Linked DNA regions of Homo sapiens: region 1 is linked to region 2. The links come from fine-mapping of genetic effects on gene expression. A gene starts in region 2. The other region holds a variant in brackets. All regions are shown on one strand. Distances are between the middles of the regions.

Region 1 (4,000 bases), 100 kb before region 2:
CAAAAACCAGGGAATTTTTTTTTTTTTTTTTAGGTCAGACAGGCAAGTGTGATTGTCATTCAACAATCATTTATTGAGGACCTGCTAAGTACAAGGCACTGCTCTAGGTTCTTGGAATAGGGCAGTGAATAACACAGACAAAGCAGAAATGTCTGCCTTCCTGGGGTTTGCCTTCTGAAAGAGCTGCCCTCTCCCGCTACCATGTTATCATTAAGATAGGGTTCAAAAGAGGATTGAGCAAGGCAGGGAAAAATCAGCTCCTGAAGTTTCCCATGTGATCAAAACAGAGTTTCCATAGCATGTGTAAACCAGTTCCCATGCTGGGTGGCCCTGGCCCAGAGTCCTTCTGGGTCAGCTATTTCCTTCTGCAACTGTCTACCTACTGTTGTGTCACTCTGCAGGCCTGGGCTCACTCCACTTGCTCATCAGGCCACAGGAGGAAGTATCATGCTGGTCTGTTGAATTAAATGCTCAAGTTCCCTTCAGGTGGATCATGGCCAGTGGAGAGGAAGGGCCAACCTCGGGGGGTTAACAAGAAATTCTTTTAGGGCCCCCACAGAGCTTCCCCTTCCCACCGTCTGTCCAGCAGAGGCCATGGGCTCTGCTGAATATCTCATATATATTGTCTGCTGCTATGGTTGTTTTATTCATCATTAGTTTTATTTGATCCAACTGTTTCTTGAAGCCATCCACATCCAGCATGCAGATTATACTCGTATCAGATTTTCTTTCAAATATAAAACCCACAATGAACTCTGCTATGTAAACAATTTCTCAGTACTTCAGATAACTTTAATAGCTTCTCTTTGAAAACAAAACCCTTAGTGATATTTAGACATGGGTTCCAGACAGGGCAGTTAATTAAGTATACCTTGCCCCTGGGAAGTTTCTCTGCAGCAAGGGCAGTGGGCTGGGCCCCATCCCCTCTGTCACCTCCCACTGATTTCCCTCATCACCCCTGAATGCTGCCTCCAACTCCAGGACACAGGACTAACTCCAGGGTCACTTGTCAAGAGGGACCACTGTCTTTATGGGACAAGAATCTGACAAACTCATCCAGTGCCCCTGAGAACATCAAGATCCCCTGACTTGATGACTAGAGTTCACTTTTTGCCTTCCAAAGGCTATGCTAGATCTTAAATGTTAAAACATAAACTAAAAAGTACCTTCCCCAAAAGCTGATCCTAATCATTTTGATATGGACAGGAGGCAGGGAAATACTAGGTAGAAGATGGTGGGGTCCCTGGCGAGGGCTCCACCCTCAAGCTGGACCTGCGGACCTAAACGAAAACTTCACATCCCTGTTTTCCCGCCCGAATGTTGCCTTTTGGCCTACCATGGCCCATATCCTGTGCTCATAAAAATCCAAAGCTCCACTGGCAGAGGAGCAGAGCGCTGTGGCAGAAAAGGAGAGAAGAGAAGAAGTGTCCAAACATCAAGAGGAGAAGAGGCAGCTGGATGTCAGAGACTACGGTCACAGAATTTGGCCAAGGTCAGTTGGAGAAGAGTTCAGTCCCCAGCTGAACTCCAGGGAAGATTATCTTCCCACTCCATCCCCTTTCCAGCTCCACATCCCACTGAAAGCCACTTCCACCACTCAATAAAATCTCCACATTCACCATCCTTCAAGTCCATGTGACCTCATTCCTCTTGGGCACTAGACAAGGACCCAGGTGCGGGTGCAAGAAGCTGTCACAGTGACCCTCCACTGAGCTGTGTAACACTTAGCCATCCACAGACAGCACATACTAAAAGAGCACTGATTGTAACACACACCCTCTGGGGCTCCAGAGGTTGCTGGCAACCCCTAGACATTGCTGTGGGCTGGTATGGGGGTTTGTTCCTGCCAGTGCCCAAAGGCACTCGCCCCAGCTCCTGCACCCACTCACATGCATGCACCACCCACCATAAGGGGTTTGAGCACGTGGAAGCAGCTGAGCAAAGGAGCCACCCCTGCTGCAAGTCCCACCAGAGGGTAAAGGGAACTCTCCTGTCTCAATTGCTAATCAAAGGCCTCCATGAGCAACATGGAAGTATAGGACAGGAAGAGACTCACCACCA[T/C]GGTTATCTGCTATGTGATGCTGAGCCTGTCTTGATAGGAATTCCACTAAAAGGACAAATCCAAGGAGAATTCTTAACATGTTTTAAGCATCTACTAGGTGTGTGTCATTGAAAAGGAAGTGGGGCAATGAACTCCATTCTCTCTCTGGGTTACACTACTCACAAATGTCTTCTCTTTACTTTCAAGTTCTCTATTGAGATAATTCATGTAAAATGCCTGTAATATGACCAGGTATCATACCTAGTCAACAGATGGTGTTTCAATTTGCTCTTCTAAATTTCTGTGTTTTGGACCAAACCAAAGGAAACCTGTACCCTATTTGTTACTAAGTAATGGAGCAGAAGTCTCTTTGGACTCCATTTTCCCCTCTAAGCATTTAAAATACAGGCTCCCTACCCCATGACTTTTCATGGAAATTTATTCACATTCATTAAGGCTTTGGGAATTTTGAATTAAAAACTCAGGGAAGCTCAGATTCAATTCTCCAATAAGCCTCCGCTTTTTTCAACCCGGTCTTAATAAATCAAATAAAATAACCCACACTGTTTATGTAAATGTAAACCTATTGGTTCATAAAAGTGGGCTCAGATAAGCAAGAAAACCCCAAGAGTTTAGACCAGACAAAGAACTTCCCCTAAAAGCTTATCTGTTCTCCAGGGGCCTTGACTTCAACAGCTGCTGTAACCTCCTGTCTAAAAATCCTGGTAGAATGCATTTGGAATTTTCAATATTCACAGGACACATCATCCTTTTGCTAACACATCCCAGCCAGGTCTCCAAAGTCACCCTCACAGTATTTGCAGGCTAATCTTTCTACGTTTACTTATAAAAGCTGTCAATTAGGAAAACCTCTCTCCCTGACAGTCAGGAACTGCATCCTATTTTCATGTACATAGACACACAATGAATCACAGGCTTTACTAATCCTTTAAGAGTGTTAGAGGTCCCAGGGGACTGTTAGAATGAAAGCAAAACCTGCCCTGGATTATGCTATTTCCGACTAATCCTAGGAAAATGAATGTTAATTTATCATGAAAAAGGGTTAATTATGCATTTATTTCCGACGTAGGTACATGAGATCAGGCTCAGAAATAATACGGAGTATAATTCTCTTTTAAATGAGGATTCCATTTTAAGCATTTTTATCAAACAGACGCTAAACTCGGAGCAACTGTACCAAAGAAAAAGAGTAGCTTGGTAATGACAAGACCCAACTATAATTTTAATTAACCTTCTGATCCGGCTTAAATATATTTTGCCTTGTAAAAATCTGTAATAACATCTATTTCAATCTCCTCTGCTATTAGTTATTAAATTGAAAATGGATGCCTAGACTGATTTGGCAAAGATATTCAAGAAATTTTTCTTTATTCTCTCTGGTTTATTAAAGTAATAATTTGTAGCATAAAATTTCTCTGATTAAGTAATTTCGTGTAATTAAATCACCAGATTTATTAGGCTTCCTGAAACAGCACATACACAGCTGGAATGATGGTGACTGTTAGCCGCTGCTGAGACAGAAGCACATGTTGGCAGCGGCTTTCCTTGAATTTTCCTTCTGCTCAGATCAAGGAGTCATCGGTTTCACCTGCCATCTCCCATGGTCTCTGAGGTTCTGAAGGCTACTACCTACTGAGTCACTCCTGCTCACAATTAAAGAGGAGTCCTCATGAGAGGTCACTCTGCTGGTATCAGTGTGGTATCAGCAGAGGGAGGCGCAGCAAAGGAACTCTGTTTAGCCCCGATACAATCATTGCATGCCCAGCTTGGTGGTTTTTCTTCTTCCCTGTCCTGTAATCACTCAGATCCCCAAAGCTCCATTCTGAATGCTTCCCTTGTCCCTAGAATACACGTCAAGTCCTTCCACGGTGTTTACCCTCAGCCCTGAGAACTCTTCAGAAGATGAGACCCGGTTAAATGTTCCCAATTCTATCATCT
Region 2 (4,493 bases):
CTGCTTCAGGGCCTCCATGGCGCTGCGGCACTCATCCTTGGCCTCCAGGCCGGATGCCAGGCTGAAGTTGGTCTCCTTGCCCGCCACGCACTGCCTTAGCGTGCGGTACTTGGTGCTGCAGCTCTGCTCCTTCAGGCACTGATCACTGGCTTTCACGCAATCCAGGCGGTCTCCGCCGCTCACTTCGGCCGACAGGAGCAAGTCTGCGGGGCAGAGGGGAGGGAGCCTGAGTGCGGCGGGCGGGGACCCCGGCCGCCCCTGCTCCGGGCGAGGGCGCGCGCCCGGGTCAGGGATGCTTGACCAGCCTTCGGGGGCGCCCTGCTCTGGGAGCGGGTCCACCTCTCGACCATCCGGGAGTCCATTTTCCCGCCCCCTGGAATTCCAGCTCCTCTCTCCTCCTCCCGGGCCCGCAAGGAAGAGTGGCGCAGGCTCAGCCCGCGGGCTTCAAGGGTTTGCTCCAGAGCCTGCGCTGCCCACCGCGCACGTCGGCCCTCCGCCCCGGGGCATCCTGGCCTGAGCAACGACCCGGGCTCCCGGGCCACCCCCGGCTCCAGCCACCCGCTCCGCCCGGCTGAAACTCAGGCGCTTTCCGAGGAGAAGTGCGGCGGCGGACTGGGCACCGGGCGCGCGCTGGGCGCGGGGCAGGCCAGCCATGGTCAGCGGTCCGCCGGGCGGAGAGTGCCCAGAAGCTACTCGGGAAAAACTTTTCTCTTCCAAGTTTGCTCTCCCGGCCCCAATGCTCCCCAACTCCACCTGCCCGCCGCGGCTCCGCGAGCTCCCAGAGACTCTCTGGGGGTGCAGGGCCCTGGGCTGGAGGGCTTCTTAGTCCCCCGCCAAGTTGGGTCATTAAAAACCACAGGAAATCAAAACCAAGCCCGAAAAGCTTCAGGCAGCGCCGCGCCGCCACCGCCTCCCTAACCCGGGGATTCGCGATCCCATTCCCCAAAAAGACACTTCTTCCTTCCACATCCACCACACCCGCGCCCCAATTTTGGTGCGGAGGGCGGGGTGGGCTGCTGCAAGCGACCCTAGGAAAGACTCAGAGGGTAAGAAAGCCCGCGGCGGGCCTCGACTTACCCAAGAGCGGCAGCGCGAAGTACAGGGTCGCCAGGAACATGGTGCCGGCGCGGGGCTGGTCCCCGCCCCCCCAAAAAAATCCCGAGCCGCCGCTGGGTCTTGCCGAGGGAGCTCAGCGTGCAGCGATCCCCGGACAGCTGTGCTGCTCTGGCCGCCCAAAGTTCAGCTCCATCCAGTGAAAGAGGAAACTCCGGGTCTGGCAGCAGCCACCGCCGCCGGCGACTCAGCTCCGGGATGGCGAGGGCGGGAGGCGGTTCCGCTTTTAGGGGTTCAGGTCCGACCCAACCTGGAAGGGAGGGCGCGCTTTGAGATGAGAGCGGAGAGCGCCGGAGACTCCCCCCACAGAACCCTCTCCCCTCCCCCGTTCCCGCCTTTGGGGAATTTCCAACACCGGGGTGAGGACCCACCCCCACCCAGGTCGGGGTGCATGTGCGTGTTTTCCAGGGGCCGCTGACACGGGGATGGAGGTGAGGGCTGGAGAGGTCTGAAGAGGGTTCCTAAAGTCCAAGGGGGTGTCTGTTGGGTTCAACCCGAGACGCTGAACGCAAGCAAATAAATAAATAAACGGTACTTTCCGAGCGTCGCGAGCGGAGCCTGCAGCTGCCTGGAGTCCGAGCCCTCGGTGGCGGCGGCGGCAGCTCCCTAGCCAGCCCTGGCGCCGAAAGAGCCCCTTCTCCCGGGAAGTTGGCCTCCCCCTCCTCGCGTCAGCCAGCGAGCTCGCTCAGCCGCCGGCCCTCCCCACTCCGATCGCCAATCCCTAGCCCCAGTCGCCGCCCTCCTTCTCCCCGGGACTCGTCTCCCTCCAGAGGCCGCCAAGCCAGGGGGAACCGATGTCCCGACTGGGGCTGAAACCCGGTTCCTGCGCCCCTACCCCCTACCCGCCGCGCGTCCTCGGCTCCCTCCTGGGCGTCCGCTCCTCTCACACTCTCGCCCGGTGCCCAGGACTCGGGCGCTTCCGCACCCCAGCCCAGGGCGAGCGCGCCGGCCCGCAGTCCCGGCGTGCCCCGGCAGGTGCAGCCCGGCGCCACGAGCGCCCCCCGGGCCCTAAAGTTGGGAGACGCCAGCAAAAAGAAAGGGGTGGCCGGAGGAGGGGGGAAGAAGGAGTGGGGAAGAGGGACGGGAAGCGGCAATGGGTTCCCAAACAGAACGAAAAAAACTCCAAATGCCACCAACCTGGACTCAACCGACCGCGTCCAGCTGCGGCGAGGAGCCAGTTTGTTTATTTACTTATTTATTCTTTCAGGGCAATGGTGTCCCCGCCCCCTCCTTCCCTTTCCGGGCTCACTTTATCTGCGCTAGGAAAAGAAAAAAAAGAAAAAAAAATAGATGCGGTAATCTTCGAGAGCTCGAAGGGCCGAGTTGGGCCAGGACGATTTCCGAGCAGAGCCCTCGGCTCGGATGCTCGTTAGGGATGTTAGTGGTTATTGGAAGCGGCGCGGAGAATGGCGTGTTCCGAGGCCAGATTTCTTCTGGCCAGAGGACCCTCGGCCTGCTCCTGTTCCCGCCGCTCCGCAGCTCCAGCTCCCTCCTAAGCTCGCCCGCCAGGCAGCCGCAGCTGCACACGCCCGCTTGCGGTGGGACCCGCGGCCGGACCCGTACTCGCGCACAGGACACGCAGTGTTCTGCAGCCGGCCGCGGGTGCTGCCAGACACACACACTCTCTCTCTCTCTCTCTCTCTCTGTCTCTCTCTCTCTCTCTCTCTCTCACACACACACACAGACACACACACACACATACACGGGCACAAGGGCTCTTTCTTCTTAGGGCAATCGAGCCAGACCCTTCTTCGGAACACAAAGTTTTCCCCCACGTCACTAGTGGCTGTGATTCAAGACTTGGTGCTTTCAAGACACACTCAGACCCAGGACGCTGGAGCGGCGATCCTGGGATGCGCCCATCCGTTCGTCCACGCCAGCGCGTGCACACTCACACTCACACGCACACATGCACACGCAGTCTCTACCTCTCTCCTGGAGCTCCGACAAGGAGACAAAAGCGGAGCCCCCAGCCCACTGCATTTAAACCCGGCCAGACCTGGCTTTAGAAAATTTATAAGCTGACCTCCATTTTGGCTGTTTCGAGAGTAAATTAACAACAACAAAAAAAGCCTAACATGTACACAGCCCTTCGCCCCAACCCCTGGGACCGCTGGTTCCCAGTCGTGCTGCTCACCCCCCGCCCCCCACGCCTGACACACGCTCCCCTTCCCGCACGCCGGGGGGCGCCCGGGGCACCGAAGTCTACACTGGGTCGGGAGACCGGTCTAGGAGCCAGCCGGCAGTGCTCGGGATCTTTGCTGATGTCCAAGTTCATCTCTCGGGGAGACCGAGTTTGAATCAAATCTGCGTGCGCCCAGCTGTCAAATCTGCAAACCTATCACGCCAGACAATGGGCCGCCGCGGAGGACAGACAAGAATGGCTCATTTTGATCGAGGGGGGTAAATTGAAAAGGGCACGGGCTTTGGTTGAAGTTTGAGGCCCGGGTGTCAGGGCGGGGAGAAGAAGAGGAGGAAGGAGGAGGGTTGGGCCGCTCTCCATTCAACCACACATCAGCCAGGCGCGCCCCTCGGCTGCAGCGGCTGCTTGCAGGCGGGCTGCATATTGTGTGGAGTCGCCAAAGAGGGTCTGCGCCTCGGGGCGCGCCCCAAACCCGGGGGACATCCTACGGATCCGCACTTCTCTTGTGCTGTACGCGTGTTCCTCCAGGGTAAGTATGAGGAGACGGACGCCCTCATCAGACACCCCTCCTCCAACACACACACACCCATAGCCACATCATTCAGGGATACTCTAGTTCAGTGTATCAGTTTACACTTGGTTGTTGAGTAAACAAAGCAAACATATGTCACATTTTCGCGACAGATGGTTCAAACCAAGGGCTACTTAAGTTCTCTCTCTCTAACAGTCTAAGTTACAGGCTGAACTAAGCAGAAATGTAATTAAGTCATCTGATCAGTTTCTTCGACTTAAAATGTTTTCCCATATTTTCACAAACAAGCCAGATAAATCCTGGGGATGTGGTTTCAAGGAAAGGAGGGCTGAATATGAACTAAGACTTTGTGTGAAGACTCCGTTTCTCCCCGGTCACCCCAAACAGAAAATCCTCTTTCATTGTTCCATTTCGTAAGTGGAGGAGAATGTCTTCTTTTGGAAAATCAGTAATTGGAATTTCAATTTTCAATAGAGGGACTAGTGCTTACCGGTGCTGATTACTTGGGATAGTTGGATTACAATGAGGTTTAAGACATCATCCACATCTTTTGTAAATGTTCTTTGTTTAGAAATGACTTCATGTTACCCTATATATTCCACGGAATTCTTTTGAATCAAATTTTAACAGGGTGGGGGAAGGGTGAACTAAAAGCTCTCCCAGTGTAGAATATGGGACTTCTTTTTAAAATACAGATGATCTCCA

Direction of the effects. Alleles are on the strand shown, and positions count from the first base shown. SD is a standard deviation of normalised expression in the study named.
With allele C in place of T in region 1, the expression in nucleus accumbens of the gene that starts at base 2,294 in region 2 is higher (moderate effect, 0.55 SD a copy in GTEx).

What was found. PIP is the estimated chance that this variant, and not a neighbour inherited with it, causes the effect.
Region 1: its variant is the best candidate, but not a certain one, in a credible set for the expression of GFRA1 in nucleus accumbens (GTEx, PIP 0.90).

Annotation. Positions count from the first base shown.
Region 1 is chr10:116,168,131-116,172,130 of GRCh38, forward strand. The region is part of intron 5 of GFRA1 (GDNF family receptor alpha 1); the gene reads right to left. Among named protein-coding and RNA genes, the nearest start is that of SNORD158, 25 kb to the right of the region's middle. The variant T/C (reference allele first, on the strand shown) is at 2,062.
Region 2 is chr10:116,270,913-116,275,405 of GRCh38, forward strand. GFRA1 (GDNF family receptor alpha 1) reads right to left here and starts at 2,294. Exons shown (of 11, transcript NM_005264.8): 1 at 2,251-2,294; 2 at 1,078-1,363; 3 at 1-203. The coding sequence starts at 1,117. LOC107984273 (a long non-coding RNA gene) reads left to right here and starts at 3,097. Exons shown (of 2, transcript XR_001747598.2): 1 at 3,097-4,493. RefSeq lists an enhancer at 2,459-3,296 and a silencer at 2,505-2,799.